Regions from separate parts of the Homo sapiens genome. Here region 2 is linked to region 1. A link means that fine-mapping ties the variant in region 1 to the expression of a gene that starts in the linked region. Tissue or cell type: whole blood. Region 1 holds a variant in brackets; the other region holds the start of a gene. All regions are shown on one strand. Distances are between the middles of the regions.

Region 1 (8,188 bases):
ATAATGGTAAAGGGATAAATTCCACAAGAAGAGCTAACTATCCTAAATATATATGCACCCAATACAGGAGCACCCAGATTCATAAAGCAAGTCCTGAGTGACCTACAAAGAGACTTAGACTCCCACACATTAATAATGGGAGACTTTAACACCCCACTGTCAACATTAGACAGATCAACGAGACAGAAAGTTAACAAGGATACCCAGGAATTGAACTCAGCTCTGCACCAAGCGGACCTAATAGACATCTACAGAACTCTCTACCCTATATCAACAGAATATACATTTTTTTCAGCACCACATCACACCTATTCCAAAATTGACCACATAGTTGGAAGTAAAGCACTCCTCAGCAAATGTAGAAGAACATAAATTATAACAAACTATCTCTCAGACCACAGCGCAATCAAACTAGAACTCAGAATTAAGAAACTCACTCAAAACCGCTCAACTACATGGAAACTGAACAACCTGCTCCAGAATGACTACTGGGTACATAACGAAATGAAGGCAGAAATAAAGATGTTTTTTGAAACCAACGAGAACAAAGACACAACATACCAGAATCTCTGGGACACATTCAAAGCAGTGTGTAGAGGGAAATTTATAGCACTAAATGCCCACAAGAGAAAGCAGGAAAGATCCAAAATTGACACCCTAACATCACAATTAAAAGAATTAGAAAAGCAAGAGCAAACACATTCGAAAGCTAGCAGAAGGCAAGAAATAACTAAAATCAGAGCAGAACTGAAGGAAATAGAGACACAAAAAACCCTTCAAAAAATTAATGAATCCAGGAGCTGGTTTTTTGAAAGGATCAACAAAATTGATAGACCGTTAGCAAGACTAATAAAGAAAAAAAGAGAGAAGAATCAAATAGATGCAATAAAAAATGATAAAGGGGATATCACCACCGATCCCACAGAAATACAAACTACCATCAGAGAATACTACAAACACCTCTACGCAAATAAACTAGAAAATCTAGAAGAAATGGATAAATTCCTCGACACATACACTCTCCCAAGACTAAACCAGGAAGAAGTTGAATCTCTGAATAGACCAATAACAGGATCTGAAATTGTGGCAATAATCAATAGCTTACCAACCAAAAAGAGTCCAGGACCAGATGGATTTACAGCTGAATTCTACCAGAGGTACAAGGAGGAACTGGTACCATTCCTTCTGAAACTATTCCAATCAATAGAAAAAGAGGGAATCCTCCCTAACTCATTTTATGAGGCCAGCATCATCCTGATACCAAAGCTGGGCAGAGACACAACCAAAAAAGAGAATTTTAGACCCATATCCTTCATGAACATTGATGCAAAAATCCTCAATAAAATACTGGCAAACCGGATCCAGCAGCACATCAAAAAGCTTATCCACCATGATCAAGTGGGCTTCATCCCTGGGATGCAAGGCTGGTTCAATATATGCAAATCAATCAATGTAATACATCATATAAACAGAACCAAAGACAAAAACCACATGATTATCTCTATAGATGCAGAAAAGGCCTTTGACAAAATTCAACAACCCTTCATGCTAAAAACTCTCAATAAATTAGGTATTGATGGGACGTATCTCAAAATAATAAGAGCTATCTATGACAAACCCACAGCCAATATCATACTGAATGGGCAAAAACTGGAAGCATTCCCTTTGAAAACTGGCACAAGACAGGGATGCCATCTCTCACCATTCCTATTCAACATAGTGTTGGAAGTTCTGGCCAGGGCAATTAGGCAGGAGAAGGAAATAAAGGGTATTCAATTAGGAAAAGAGGAAGTCAAATTGTCCCTGTTTGCAGACGACATGATTGTATATCTAGAAAACCCCATTGTCTCAGCCCAAAATCTCCTTAAGCTGATAAGCAACGTCAGCAAAGTCTCAGGATACAAAATCAATGTATATAAATCACAAGCATTCTTATACACCAATAACAGACAAACAGAGGGCCAAATCATGAGTGAACTCCCATTCACAATTGCTTCAAAGAGAATAAAATACCTAGGAATCCACCTTACAAGGGACGTGAAGGACCTCTTCAAGGAGAACTACAAACCACTGCTCAATGAAATAAAAGAGGATACAAACAAATGGAAGAACATTCCATACTCATGGGTAGGAAGAATCAATATTGTGAAAATGGCCATACTGCCCAAGGTAATTTATAGATTCAATGCCATCCCCATCAAGCTACCAATGACTTTCCTCACAGAATTGGAAAAAACTACTTTAAAGTTCATATGGAACCAAAAAAGAGCCCACATCGCCAAGTCAATCCTAAGCCAAAAGAACAAAGCTGGAGGCATCACACTACCTGACTTCAAACTATACTACAAGGCTACAGTAACCAAAACAGCATGGTACTGGTACCAAAACAGAGATATAGATCAAGGGAACAGAATAGAGCCCTCAGAAATAACGCTGTATATCTACAACTATCTGATCTTTGACAAACCTGAGAAAAACAAGCAATGGGGAAAGGATTCCCTATTCAATAAATGGTGCTGGGAAAACTGGCTAGCCATATGTAGAAAGCTGAAACTGGATCCCTTCCTTACACCTTATACAAAAATCAATTCAAGATGGATTAAAGACTTAAACGTTAGACCTAAAACCATAAAAACCCTAGAAGAAAACCTAGGCATTACCATTCAGGACATAGGCATGGGCAAGGACTTCATGTCTAAAACACCAAAAGCAATGGCAACAAAAGCCAAAATTGACAAATGGGATCTAATTAAACTAAAGAGCTTCTGCACAGCAAAAGAAACTACCATCAGAGTGAACAGGCAACCCACAAAATGGGAGAAAATTTTCACAACCTACTCGTCTGACAAAGGGCTAATATCCAGAATCTACAATGAACTCAAACAAATTTACAAGAAAAAGACAAACAACCCCATCAAAAAGTGGGCAAAGGACATGAACAGACACTTCTCAAAAGAAGTCATTTATGCAGCCAAAAAACATGAAAAAATGCTCATCATCACTGGCCATCAGAGAAATGCAAATCAAAACCACAATGAGATACCATCTCACACCAGTTAGAATGGCAATCATTAAAAAGTCAGGAAACAACAGGTGCTGGAGAGGTTGTGGAGAAATAGGAACACTTTTACACTGTTGGTGGGACTGTAAACTAGTTCAACCATTGTGGAAGTCAGTGTGGCGATTCCTCAGGGATCTAGAACTAGAAATACCATTTGACCCAGCCATCCCATTACAGGGTATATATCCAAAGGACTATAAATCATGCTGCTCTAAAGACACATGCACAGGTATGTTTATTGTGGCACTATTCACAATAGCAAAGACTTGGAACCAACCCAAATGTCCAACAATGATAGACTGGATTAAGAAAATGTGGCACATATACACCATGGAATACTATGCAGCCATAAAAAATGATGAGTTCATGTCCTTTGTAGGGACATGGATGAAATTGGAAATCATCATTCTCAGTAAACTATCGCAAGAACAAAAAACCAAACACCGCATATTCTCACTCATAGGTGGGAATTGAACAATGAGAACACATGGACACAGGAAGGGGAACATCACACTCTGGGGACTGTTGTGGGGTGGGGGGAGGGGGGAGGGATAGCATTGGGAGATATACCTAATGATAGATGACAAGTTTAGTGGGTGCAGCGCACCAGCATGGCACATGTATACATATGTAACTAACCTGCACATTGTGCACATGTACCCTAAAACTTAAAGTATAATAATAATAAAAAAATAAAATAAAATAAAGATTTGTCAGTCTTGCTTATTTGATAAGCATGCATTTTTTAATGCATTCATTTGGAATCAATTTTTCATTCATCTTTAAATTATTTTTTCCATAAAATAATCCTTGAAAATAACTTTATGGGTATTTTGCTTGAAATACCCATAGAGAGGGTAGGTTGCTTGAATAATTTTTCCTGTGATTAGTCTCCTCATTGCTTGAGTAAATTTTCTTCTTTGGAGCTTACTAACTTATCCTTGTTCTAGGAAACATTTTGCCTTGCGTCTCTTTTGCCTTGATTTCAGTTTCAAGGATTTTGTACTGCTGAGTAGGTAAGGAGATCTTGCTGCTTGGTGAAGAAGAGGGAAAACAGCTGTTTTAACTAACTGTGGGCCAACATTTTTGGCTAACGCAATGGTTAGCTCTTTGAAAAGCAGCTGCTTAAGTCTGTCCCATGATTCTGGCAGGAGTACCGGAAAATATCTAATGTTTGAATTT[A/G]TAAATTCCATGGCTTGTTCATTTCATTTGGTGTCATTGCTGTTTCTTTAAATGCACATAACTACCTTTCCCTGCAGCTTTTCATACTCTATTAAAGATGGAGGAAGAAGAGAGCCTGCAAAAGGGGGAGCTGTGAGGAGCTCAGCAGGGCAAAGCTAATCCAGGCAGCTATCTTTGAATAGGTTTTCCCCCCAGTGAGATGAAGCATCTTTTTCATCTACCAGTGTTTGCAGATTCATCCCTTGCTGACTTGAATGTGCCCTGCCTCTGAACTTTCACTGCCCTGCTAGTCCTTATGGTTCCTGATGCCATCCTGTATTCTTAACTGCGACACTTGGGTATATTTTATCTTTCTAAATATGTTCAGAGAGTTAGAGACAACATATTTGCCTTTTTGGATTGGGATATAATTTATAATGCCTGTCAAGGTTTTACAGACAGTAGTTATTCAAGAAATAGATTTCATTTGCTTGACACAAATGCTCACATAACTATTTTAGTGCCTTTTCAGCTAGTTTAGGTTACAAAGACAGTATTTTGATAAGTACAGGAACTGTGGCATCATATAAATACACGTTTAGCAGAGGGTCAGACATATTCTCTATGTTTGTAGATTTCAGTGTCCTTTCTTTTTTTACTTTGAGACAAAGTCTCATGCTGTTGCACAGGCTGGAGTGTAGTGGAGCAATCTCAGCTCACATTAGCCTTGACCTCCTGGGCTCAAGCGATCCTCTCATCTCAGCCACTGAAGTAGCTGGGACCACAGGCGTGCCACCACACCCAGCTAATTTTAAAATTATTTTTAGAGATGGGGTCTCATTATGTAGCCCAGGCTGGTCTCAAACACCTGGGCTCAAGAGATCCTCCTGCCTCAGCCTACCAAAGTGCTGGGACTATAGGCACGAGCCACTACACCCTGCCCATTTCAGTATTCTTTTTTTACAGAGACCCTCTTAGGCTAACATTTTATTATTACAGTGCCCCCAGAATGCTTTGTTTTACATTGAATATATTCGACATTTGGCTTTAGGACTCTGAAAGGCAAAAAGTACCTTTGCTTTTGCTTTTCCTCATTATTCATATACAAATGTCAATCGTTGTGTACCTGTGAGTGTCATTCCTTTTGGTAGGCATCGCTGCGAGAGGCTCATGGAAAGTCGAGAGCACCAGAGTTAGGAAACCTGGACCCTTGGCCTGTCCACTGGCTCAAGAGGGAAGTGCTGCAGTCAGGGCCTCAGAAACATCTGCAAAGTGATGAGAACATCTCCAAGTTTCTTCTACCTCGAACATTTTGTGGTTCTTTTCCTTTGTTTGTAAGTTAGAATAGTCATTACCACCCAATGAGGGTATAAGTATGGAACAACCCAGTTTTTCTTGAAACTAGACATCACATGACTAGATGAAAACATTGATACTTGAGTCTTTATTACAATCAATTAAAGCAAGGTTCAGTGTATAGTTTGGGAGTATGTCTTCCTGTTACTTTTTGACAAACTTGAAGTAATGTAACTGAGTCCTCTTATTTTTCTACTTTCTATATCTCTCCTTATACCTTTTTCTCCTAGACAATTGAATAAAGCTTTTTTTCTTTTTTTTTGGCTTTTTGTCCCCCCTCCAACTACATCTTAATAAAGGAGTAGACTGTATGAGAATATAAGAGGAAGCTGGCGTATTTGAGAAGATTTTGAAGGCTGATGTACTGGACACATCTACATGAGCTAGAGTTGTCTTGTGATACTCTGAACGAAGGAGCAGTATACATTAATCTAGGCTATGTAGCTGTTTACCTTTCTACAAATTCCCATCCAGGTCAGACACATTGTGCTCTTTGTTTTTTTCTTTTTTTAAAGAACACTCACTGAGTCATCTCTGGGAAAACCTTAAAGCGAATTAGTGGCCAGAACCACATTCTCTACCATCCTCTGGGTTGCCTTCCTGATTGAGGTTATATGAACAAACTGTAGAACATAATCTCTTCTGCTTGGGCTTAGGACATCAGCGAGGACACCAATAAGCCTTCAGGCCAGGGAGGGCCTCAAGGCCTTGAATTGTGGAGAGGGCAGGCCAGCATTGCCTTTGCACCTGTTTTGATAAAGAATTCCTGTCCTCTTTGTGCTGAGTTGTTTAGTCAAAGTGAAGAGAGGATGCAGAACTTGGTGGTGTGATTGGAAGGATGAGCTCTGTAGGGGATTCTAGAAGATGTAGCAATCCTTCTTTCCTGCCCTCACCCCCAGTACTTCATCCATTTTTGAAGTGATCTTGCATTTTACTTCAGGAGAGCTGGTGATGATAAGTGTTCTTCAAGACATGGTGACTTATTAATGCTAGGAGAGAGATGATAGGAAGCTGTATTCTAGAAATGGGGCTTAATTTATAAGATGGAGTTCTTCTTAACTACAAATAGGATTATGCAATTTATAAATTTAATTTAGCAAGTGAAAAGGAGTGACCAAAGAACATCAGGAAAACTACTGGTTATTTAAGACTTTGCGCCTTGTGAACCTAAATTACCTACTTTTCCATGTGCTACTGGAAGGAAGGGGTTTACTCTATTTGAAAGAAGAGGAGAGGGGAAAAATATGTTATTAAGTATATCTGGTGATAACTTTGTAGGCTTGTAGATCTTCATACTGTGTTTTTAATTCTACAACCTTAGTTTTTTCATTTAGTAGTTCCCAGGGGTGTTAACGGGTGATGCTCTGGAGGAGTGCGGACTTGCTCGAGAACCTTCCAAGTTCAAAGCAAGAGAAACTGGGGAATTTTGCCGATGACCTTTGAGGATTGCATTATTTGTTTTCCTGTCAGAGGCTGTCACTAACAGCTGATTCTCCTACTAAAGAAGAAGTAACAGAAAACAACACAGGAGCCTGCTTCGTTGGTAGGAGGTGCTCAAAGGACAGAGCTAAAATCTTTAGTTGGATATTAAGGAGAAGTATATTTCAAATTCAGTGTAAAGGGAGTCTTTACAATAGCCAAGCCTGGCAAAAATGGGAAGGCTATTTTGTGAGGCAGAGGTTTTTTTGTCATTAGAGATATTTAAAGAAAGGTTGGAATGGCCTTTTTTGGGGGTAATATTCTAGGGCAGGGATTAGCAAACTTTTTCTCTTAAGGATCACATAGTAAAATAGTTTAGGCATCTGTCACAACTACTCAACTCTACTGTTGTATTGCAAAGGTAACCAAAGACAATAAGTAAACAAATGAGCATGACTATTAAGTTAGTCTGCTCTGGCTGCCCTAAGAAAATACCATAGGCAGAGTGGCTTAAATAACAGAAGTTTATTTCTCGTAGTTCTGGCAGCTGGGAAGTCCGAGATAAAGGTGTTGGCCCATTTGGTTTCCAGTGAGGGCTCGTTTCCTGGCTTGCAGACAGATGCCTTCTTGCTATGTCCTCACATAGTAGAGAGAGAGACGGATATCTGTTTCTTCCTCTTCTTATAAGGCTGCAATCCTAACAGATTACTGCCCCACCCTTATTACTTCATAAAAAGCTGGAGGTTAGGGCTTCAACATAAGAATTTTAGGGGAAGAGTCCACCATTTAGTCCATAACATCTGTGTTCCAATAAAAGTTTATTTATAAAAACAAGAGGTGGGCTAGATTTGTCCCAAAGACCATAGTTTGACAACCTATTGAATAGAGGAAATTAAACACTGGTGAGCGAGCAGACTAGGTGATCTACCAGCTGATAGATTCAAAACCTGGAGGCTATCGGTAAGTAACCTGCAAAATTAACTGGATCAGAACAAACCTAACTCAGAGCTCATCGACTAGTATTTCTCAGAATAAATCACTTAATAAACAAAAATAGTTCTTAAGTCCAGGATTAATTTTACTTCAATGTGCATCAAATCTATGCTTTTGGCTGATGGGAGATGCGAATGATAAACTGTGCTGGGGTCATCTTTAGAACAGGCCTGGTGTGCTCCTACAGTTGTAAACAGT
Region 2 (8,188 bases), 64 kb before region 1:
TTTTGTAGTTGTCCCCCAGTTCTTGGATATTCTGTTCATTTCTTGCATACATTTTTCTCTGCTTTTTGGTTTTGAAAGTTTCTGTTGACATACCCTCAAGCTCAGAGATTCTTTTCTCAGCCGTGTTCCATCTACTAATACGCCATTCTTCATTTCTGTTATGGTGCTTTTCATCTCTAGCATTTTTTATTATTTTTTAGAATTTCCATGTCTCTGCTTACGTTACCCATCTGTTTTTGTATGTTGTGTAAATTTTCCATTAGAGCTCTCAGCATATTAATCATAGTTATTTTAAATTCCTGGACTGATAATTCTGACATTCCTCCCATATGTGAGTTTGGTTTTGGCATTTGCTTTGTCTTTCCAAGTTGTATCTTTGGCTTTGTAAATTTTTGTTGAAAGCCATACATGACATCCTGGGTGAAAGGAATTGCCATAAATAGGCCTTCAGTGATGTGTTGGGAAGGTGTTGGGAGAGGGAAAATGGTCTATTTTCCTCTGATTAGGTCTCAGTCATCTAGTGAGCCCAGTCCCCTGGACTGTGAACTTCACAGTGCTTCTCAGCTATGTTTCACCCCCTTAGATGGGGCAGAATGTCTATGGGGGGCTGGAGTTGGGTATTTTCCTTCTCCCAGGCTGGCGAGACTCTGATAAAACCCCAGTTGGTTCAGCTCTGGTAAAATTGTTTCTTTTGAGAGTGGGTCTTGTTAAGAAGCACAGAATCTCTGGCACATTCAGAATAGTTACTTTCCTCCTCCCTTGCAGGAAACACGAGAGGATTTTTCTTCAATCTTCACTATGAGAGCTTTGTGGAGCTCCTGGAGGCAAACTTACAAAAGCACAGCTGCTCCCCTAAGACTGGGCCCCCTTGGAGTTTTTAACTCTCAAATTTGTGCATATTGGTCCTCCAGTAATTTGTCAATTATAGTCCAGGTCTTCCTACTCTGTACTGGTTCCCACTGAGATTTCAGCTATGGGACAACGGTTGTGGGGTAGTGTGTGTGGTCTACTCAGTTAAGTTGTAATTGCCTGTATCTACCTGTCTACATCTCTAATTTTGGGGCAGCAGTCTGCCCTGTGACCTCACTTCTTTGACTCATCTAAGAAGAGTTGTCTATTTTCAATTTGTGCAGCTTTTTACTTGCTTTTTAGGATAGAGTGATGACTTCCAAGGTCCTTACATGCCAGGCCAGAAATTGGAAATCTATTATTGTTTTGACCCATGCATTATTTAGGAATATAATATATTATATTCCTAATTATATAATTATATTATATAATATAATTATATTATATATTTTTATATATTTATATTATTATATAAATTATATATATTTAAAATATATATTTGTATATGTATGTATATATGTATATATACAGTATATGTATGTATGTATATATACAGTATATGTATATATATACGTATATGTATATATGTATATATACAGTATATGTATATATATACACAGTTTGCTGACATAGGCCATGTGTCCTCTAGTTGACTTCTTGGACTCTCTTGGGTAGAATCCCATTATACTGGCTCAAGCCTGGTTACTTCCTACGGTGTCCTCTTGGTTTATAGGAAACTCATGCATATGCATCCTTGACACACCAAATTCTAGTGGTGTACATAGTTTCCACTACCTTCTCTCTTTGTTCTAACATTTGGGGCTTCAAACTCTGGGGAAGTATGTCAAACCTTTGGGCAGGATACTTATGGGCTATTATCCCCAGTCCTGGGGTTTAATCAGACACTATGAGTCTAAAGGCAAATGTCCACTCCACATCTGATTACTCTTTCATTTTCTTTCCCTTATTATAACTTCTGTAATATATCATGGGATTGGAATATCATTGGCCTTGGTATATACCATGGTGTTCTAATGAGTTTACCAATTTTATATATTTAGATATGAAGGAAATGTTGTCATATAGCAAAGGGCCTAACTACTTCCATTGGTCTGTTGTGACAGGATACTGACCCTACACATCATTTAATCACCGTGGGCATTATTTATCTTTTTAAACCAGGGAACGATCACTTGTTCTAAATAATTCAAGTTTTGGGAAGCATCAAATGAAATGATCAAAATGAAATCTGTTTATACAGTGTAAGTTAAAGATACCCATAACTATTTTAAACATTGCATTTGGTATCATGACTTTAAATTACATAAGTTGAGAAGTTTTATGTTATCTCTAAATAAGGTTTATTTACCAGAAAATCATGGACAAAAATTATCCTATAACAAAATGAAAACATCATGTCATCTGTGCCAATTGCAATTTTAGGAAGAGTACTTATTAGGGCTTTGATTATTCTTTGATGTTCTCTGTTGTCAAAGTGAAGTAACCTAAATGATGTTATGCTTGCATCCTGGAATGAAAGGAGGAATGAGAATCTTCTATTATTGTTTTTCTAAAAATTATATTTCTTAATAAACAGAATATATCCATATGTATCATCAAGGATGAATTTTCCTCTGATTTGGCTTAATGAAATCTCTGGGAATTATGAAAAAATTCCTTTGCCGCTCTTGTTGCCATAAACCTTGTGTTATCAGTGTTGCACAGACCATGGCTAGCCATTTAATGCCGTGAATTATGGCATATAATTTGAATTGAGAGCTTTGTTTCTATCAAAGGTAAAAATGCTTCTGGAGTGAGTGAGGAAGGCTTTGAAGCAGTGAGAGCGTTTCCCCTATAGCATCATTGGGCTCTGACAGTAGGACCTTGAAGAGGAGGGTTCTAATCCTGTCTGCCACTATGTGACAGGCAAGTCACCTGATCTTTTTTTTTTTTTTTTTTTTAGAGTCTTTCTCTATAGCCCAGGCTGGAGTGCAGTAGTGCCATCTCGGCTTACTGCAACCTCTGCTTCCTGGGTTCAAGCGGTTCTCCTGCCTCAGTTTCCCGAGCACCTGCGACTACAGGCACGTGCCACCACGCGCCCAGCTAATTTTTGTATTTTTAATAGAGACAGGGTTTCACCATGTTGGCCAGGCTGGCCTCGAACTCCTGACCTCAAGTGATCCACCCGCCTCGGCCTCCCAGAAGTGCTGGGATTACAGACGTGAGCCACCGCGCCTGGCCCCGATCTCTTTGAACTCAGTTCCCTCATCTGTAAAGCCAGCGGCTTGGGTTGGATAATCCATACTGTCCTTTAAGCCAAGATATTCAGGGCTTGTAAATAATGCTGACTTTGCAAAGTAAGATATTGCCCGGTGTCTGCAGAATCAGGCAATTCCAAGGCCATTGTAAGGCGAAACAAAGCTCAGATTTGATGAGAGAAAATTTCTTTTCAAGGACTTCTTCCGAAGCATAAATATACGGCAGATAGCGTCAACACAGGAGAAAGGCAGTCTATTTTATGCAATGTAAAATTCCGTCTTAACTTCTAGGATTACTGTTACATCCTATTGCAAAAATGGGACTCAGGTAGACCATTTGACTACAAGACCCGAAATAAGTCAGTGGTATTTCTTGGGTACTCTGGCATTGTTAGGGACGATCACATATGTTTACTCATTTTATACTTATAACACCTTGAAAACTTCAAGAAACGGAGATGGAGATTTTGCGGCTTGCCCAGGTCCCACAGCTAGTGAGTGCAGAGGATTTTAAACTCAGCTGCGCGCCTAGTGCAGGTTCCAGAACCTCAGAAACCTCCGTGGGGCTTTATGAAACATAAGGACGCAGGCCGCTAGTAACAATAGCTAACGTGAATGCCTTCTCTGGGCCAGGCTCCATGCTGCATGCTATAGTCGCATTTTCTTGGTTAGCCCTCAGAACAACCTTCTGATGGAGATACTGCTAGTACTTGTTTACTCTTTGAAGGGCGGGGTAGGCTCTGAGACCCGCGAGTTGAGCTGCAGCGGGGTGAGTGTTACGCTACCAGGTAGACGAGGGTCTGTGTAAATTTGGCGGAAGGGAAGTGGTGGGTTGTCTCCCAGTTTGGGTTCTCTGAAGGAGTGAGGGGACTCTCCAGCTATGGTCTCCACGTACAGTCGGTCTCTGATCTCCCGAGGCTTTGTGCCACTGCGCGCCCAGGGATCTTTCTGTCCCAATTACCGTGCAAGATTCTTGCCTCCAGTTGTATGTACTGAGGCGGCGGGAAGAAGCGCCGAGGGAAGGCTCAGACCGCAATGCCCCCCAGCCTGTAGCTATTCTCGGGGGCTGCAGCTCCCGCACCCGCGACGCCCGGCTTTCAGCGGGTGCAGGCGCAGCCTCCTCGTTCCCCTCCCGCCCGCGGCTGCGCCCGGAGAGCGCTCAGCTGACCTAGGGGCGGGGCCGGGGCGGGGACCTAAAGCCTCGGCTACTTCCGAGGGGGTGAGTGGCTTCACCGCCGGTCCCTTGCAGCGCTGCCTTTCGATCTCTCCACATCTCGGTGGCGCGGGATCTCAAGATGCGCCTCCACCTGCTCCTGCTGCTCGCGCTGTGCGGTGCAGGCACCACCGCCGCGGAGCTCAGTTACAGCTTGCGTGGCAACTGGAGCATCTGCAATGGGAACGGCTCGCTGGAGCTGCCCGGGGCGGTCCCTGGCTGCGTGCACAGCGCCTTGTTCCAGCAGGGCCTGATCCAGGTATGGCGTGCGGCCGACCCGCGGCGAGCCTGCGCCCGCCTTCTTCTGGTGCTGAGAGGGGCCCAGGAACCGCCTGGCAGCCCCCAGCTCTGGGCCATTCTCGTCGGTTTGGTAGTAACTTCCCCTTTGCATCTTGTGATCTGCGGGGGGAAATGCCCAAGCTATGGGGTACGGGCTTGACGGAGACTGAGCGACCGACCCATGTTGGGACATCAGTAACTCTGGAAAGGGGAAGTTTAGATAGGGGAACAGTGTTGCTACTAGCAGTTTACTTACTGCAGTCGTTCTCTACTGAAGCGTGTATACAAAGGGCATGCCGTCACTGACAAGCATAAGGTCGGGAATTACTGTCTCTACTGTCTGCACGCCACAGGGGACAACAGCGTTTTGTTAAGTAAGGGTTAACTCTATTGAGTAATGTCTCGGTTTTTTATTTTCGCTGTTAAGCGTCAGGGAGTCAGATTTGGGATTGACGCAGCACAGACGTTGTGGAGAATGACCTACAAGAGTAAAGTTGGGTTTGTCAGTGCTAGTGTGGCTAACAACGGGTAAATAATTTTTAAGGCTAACTTGGTGATGAAGAAAGGTGCTATTTCCTCTCAGGGCGTGTGTGTGTGTGTGTGTGTGTATCCCAATGGAGTCTCCAATTTACAGACTACTTGTGGGGAACGTTTTCGTGTTTGGCTGCCTGTGCGCATAGGTTTGCAAACTGACTTCCATCCTCCAACTGCTTTTGCTGTTCCCTCTTGCACAGCGTTCCCACGTGTTGTCTTTACTTGGGGCAAAATGTACTTGTAATTGATCTACTTGTGGGATGCATACATTGTCCAATCCTCATAACAACTCTGTATAGTAAGTGTTCATATCTGAATTTTATGGATAATATGGAATTATGGAACACAGAGAAATTAGGAAGGTGACAGCAACTAAATGGAAAGAAATGGAATTCTAACCCAGGTGGTCTCAACTCCATAGCCTGGTCTCTATACTATGTGGTATGCTTAGTTTGGTGTTTTAAAAAATCATGTGTTTTTGAAGCACTGTGGCTGACTTTCAGGAGCACCATTCTAAGTTTATTTGCATGACAAGGTGGTCATCTAGGGTTGTGCCAAATTTCTGACCTGGTACTTAGTAGTTTTTTTTTTTTTTTTCCTGAGATGTGTATCAGAAAGGAGGTGAATGTTGTAAATGACATTGACCATTGTCCGATGTATTTTTAGAGTAGATCATTCCCAAACTTTAGTACTTTATTTTAAGTTGACAAACTACTTGTGATAGAGAACACAGCTGACCACAGTATACTCTGAGTTTTCACTTATATCTGCTTTGAGAATGCCTGTGTTTATTTTGTAGGGTTCCTCCTTGCCTGATTTTACTGAAATAATTAAGCCAATGGGTGCTGGTACGTGAGAGCTTTGGGAGGCCAAGGTAGGAGGATCCCTTGAGTCCAGGAGTTCAAGACCAGCATGGCCAACATAGAAAGAGTCTATGAGGCCGAGGTGGGAAAATTTCTTGAGGCCAAGAGTTCAAGACCAGCATGGCCAACATAGAGAGATTCTATCTCTAAAAAAAAAAAAAAAGAAAGAAAGAATTAAGCCAATGGGAAATAATGAGTGGCTTCAGTAAGTCAGATTATTGTGCCATATTACAGAGCTAAGAAGCTAAGAAACAACGTTTGGTTACAACAGATACTTAATGAAAATGAATTTGCTCATAGTATGAAATAACTTCCTCATAGGAACAATTTGAAGAGATTTCTTAACTCTCTTCATAAATTCTTAGCAAAACCTTGAGGTTTCAATCAGGTGGCCATGGGTCTCAAATGGCAGTGGAATGAGAAATGGGAAGGCTTTTGGGGCTTAGGAAACACAAGGCCTGTTGAAAATAATCATCAGGCTGGGCACAGTGGCTCATGCCTATAATCCCAGCACTTGGGAGGCAGAGGTAGGTGGAGTTTAGACCAGTCTGGGCAACTGGCGAGACCCTGTCTCTACAAAAAATTAAAAAATTAACTGGGCGTGGTGGCGTACACCTGTGGTCCTAGCTACGAGGGAGGCTGAGGTGGGAGGATCGTTTGAGCCCAGGAGGTTGAGGCTGCAGTGAGCCGTGATCTGTACTCCAACCTGGGCAACAGAGTGACACCCTCTCTCAAAAAAAAAAAAAAAAGAAAAAAAGTAAAGAAGCAATCATCAACATCAGATCAGTATCGTTATTCAGTAATGTGAGACTGTTGTCCGACCTGCTTTATTATAACATCCCTTTTTGGTGTTGACTTGAGGAAATATTCTACCGTTTATAGTAGACACTGGGCCAAATATTGTGTTTGTGTAAGAACTTGAAACATATCTTGGTGATATCATTCATTTATTTATCTATTCACCTAGTTAATTATCTCATATTTATTTTGTACCTCTAATGTGGCAGGCACTATTCTAAGTACTTGAAATCGAGTGGTAAAGAAAACAAAGTCCTTTCCCTAATGGACATTCTAATGGAGGAGATAGACATATATACCAAATTAATAAATAATGTAAGGCAGGTGGCACACTGAAGAAAAATTGAGCAGGTTAAAGGAAGAGACAGTGAAGGCTGGTTGGAAAGCATTGCTATTTTTTAAAAAGTGGTTCAAGATAGGTATTTTGATAAGGTGACTTCTAAACAAAAAGACCTGTTTGAAAAGGTCACTTTTAAGGAGAAGTGCATTTCCAGCAAAGAGGAAAAACACAGGAGTGGGGAGGATAGAGGCCCTGAGGCAGGCACGAGCTTGACAAGTTTCAGGAATAGTCAGCAGGCCAGTGTGGCTGGAGACCTGGGAACCAGAGGGTAGGAGAGGAGTTCAAAGTCTAGGGCACATCATGAAAGGCTGTGAGCCATAGGAAACACTTTGGCTTTTATTCTACATGTGATGGGAAGTTATTGGAGGCTTTGAGCTTAGAGTAGCATGATTAGATTTGCCTTTTTAAAGGTCACTCTGTTGTGTGAAGGCTACAGTGCAGGAGAGTGGAAGCCTGGAGACCAACCAGGGGACTATTGCTGGTCTATGTATGGGCAAGAGATGACTTCTGGCTTGGACAAGCATGGTGGCAGTGAAATGGTGAGAATGGTTGTGAGAACACGTTTTACATGTAGAAACAAGAGGATTTCTTCAGTTGGATTTGTTAATGGATTGGGAGACAGAAGGGGGAGGTGCAGGAAAATACCAGGATTTTTTTTATCTGAGCTGGTTAAATGAAATTTGTATTTAGTGAGAGATTCTGTGGCTAGTCTTGGCTATTTCCTAGGTGATTCTCTGGGTTTTCTGTACAGAATCTAAACCTTTGGTTTCTTAGAGAGTCTTTTGGGTTCTCTGTGAAAAGTTATTCCTTCAGCCTGCTATTTTTTTTTTTTTGAGACGGAGTTTCGCTCTTGTTGCCCAGGCTGGAATGCAATGGTACTATCTCGGCTCACCGCAACCTCTGCCTCCTGGGTTCAAGAGATTCTCCTGCCTCAGTCTCCCAGGTAGCTGGGATTACAGGCATGTGCCACCATGCCTGGCTAATTTTGTACTTTTAGTAGAGACAAGCTTTCTCCATGTTGGTCAGGCTGGTCTTGAACTCCCAACCTCAGGCC

What was found. PIP is the estimated chance that this variant, and not a neighbour inherited with it, causes the effect.
Region 2: MANBA starts here. The variant in region 1 is fine-mapped to the expression of MANBA in whole blood (INTERVAL, PIP above 0.99).

What each region holds. Positions count from the first base shown.
Region 1 is chr4:102,692,922-102,701,109 of GRCh38, reverse strand. The region is part of intron 5 of MANBA (mannosidase beta); the gene reads left to right. Among named protein-coding and RNA genes, the nearest start is that of MANBA, 64 kb to the left of the region's middle. The variant A/G (reference allele first, on the strand shown) is at 4,244.
Region 2 is chr4:102,757,109-102,765,296 of GRCh38, reverse strand. MANBA (mannosidase beta) reads left to right here and starts at 4,329. Exons shown (of 17, transcript NM_005908.4): 1 at 4,329-4,579. The coding sequence starts at 4,403. RefSeq lists a silencer at 4,165-4,294 and an enhancer at 4,385-4,734.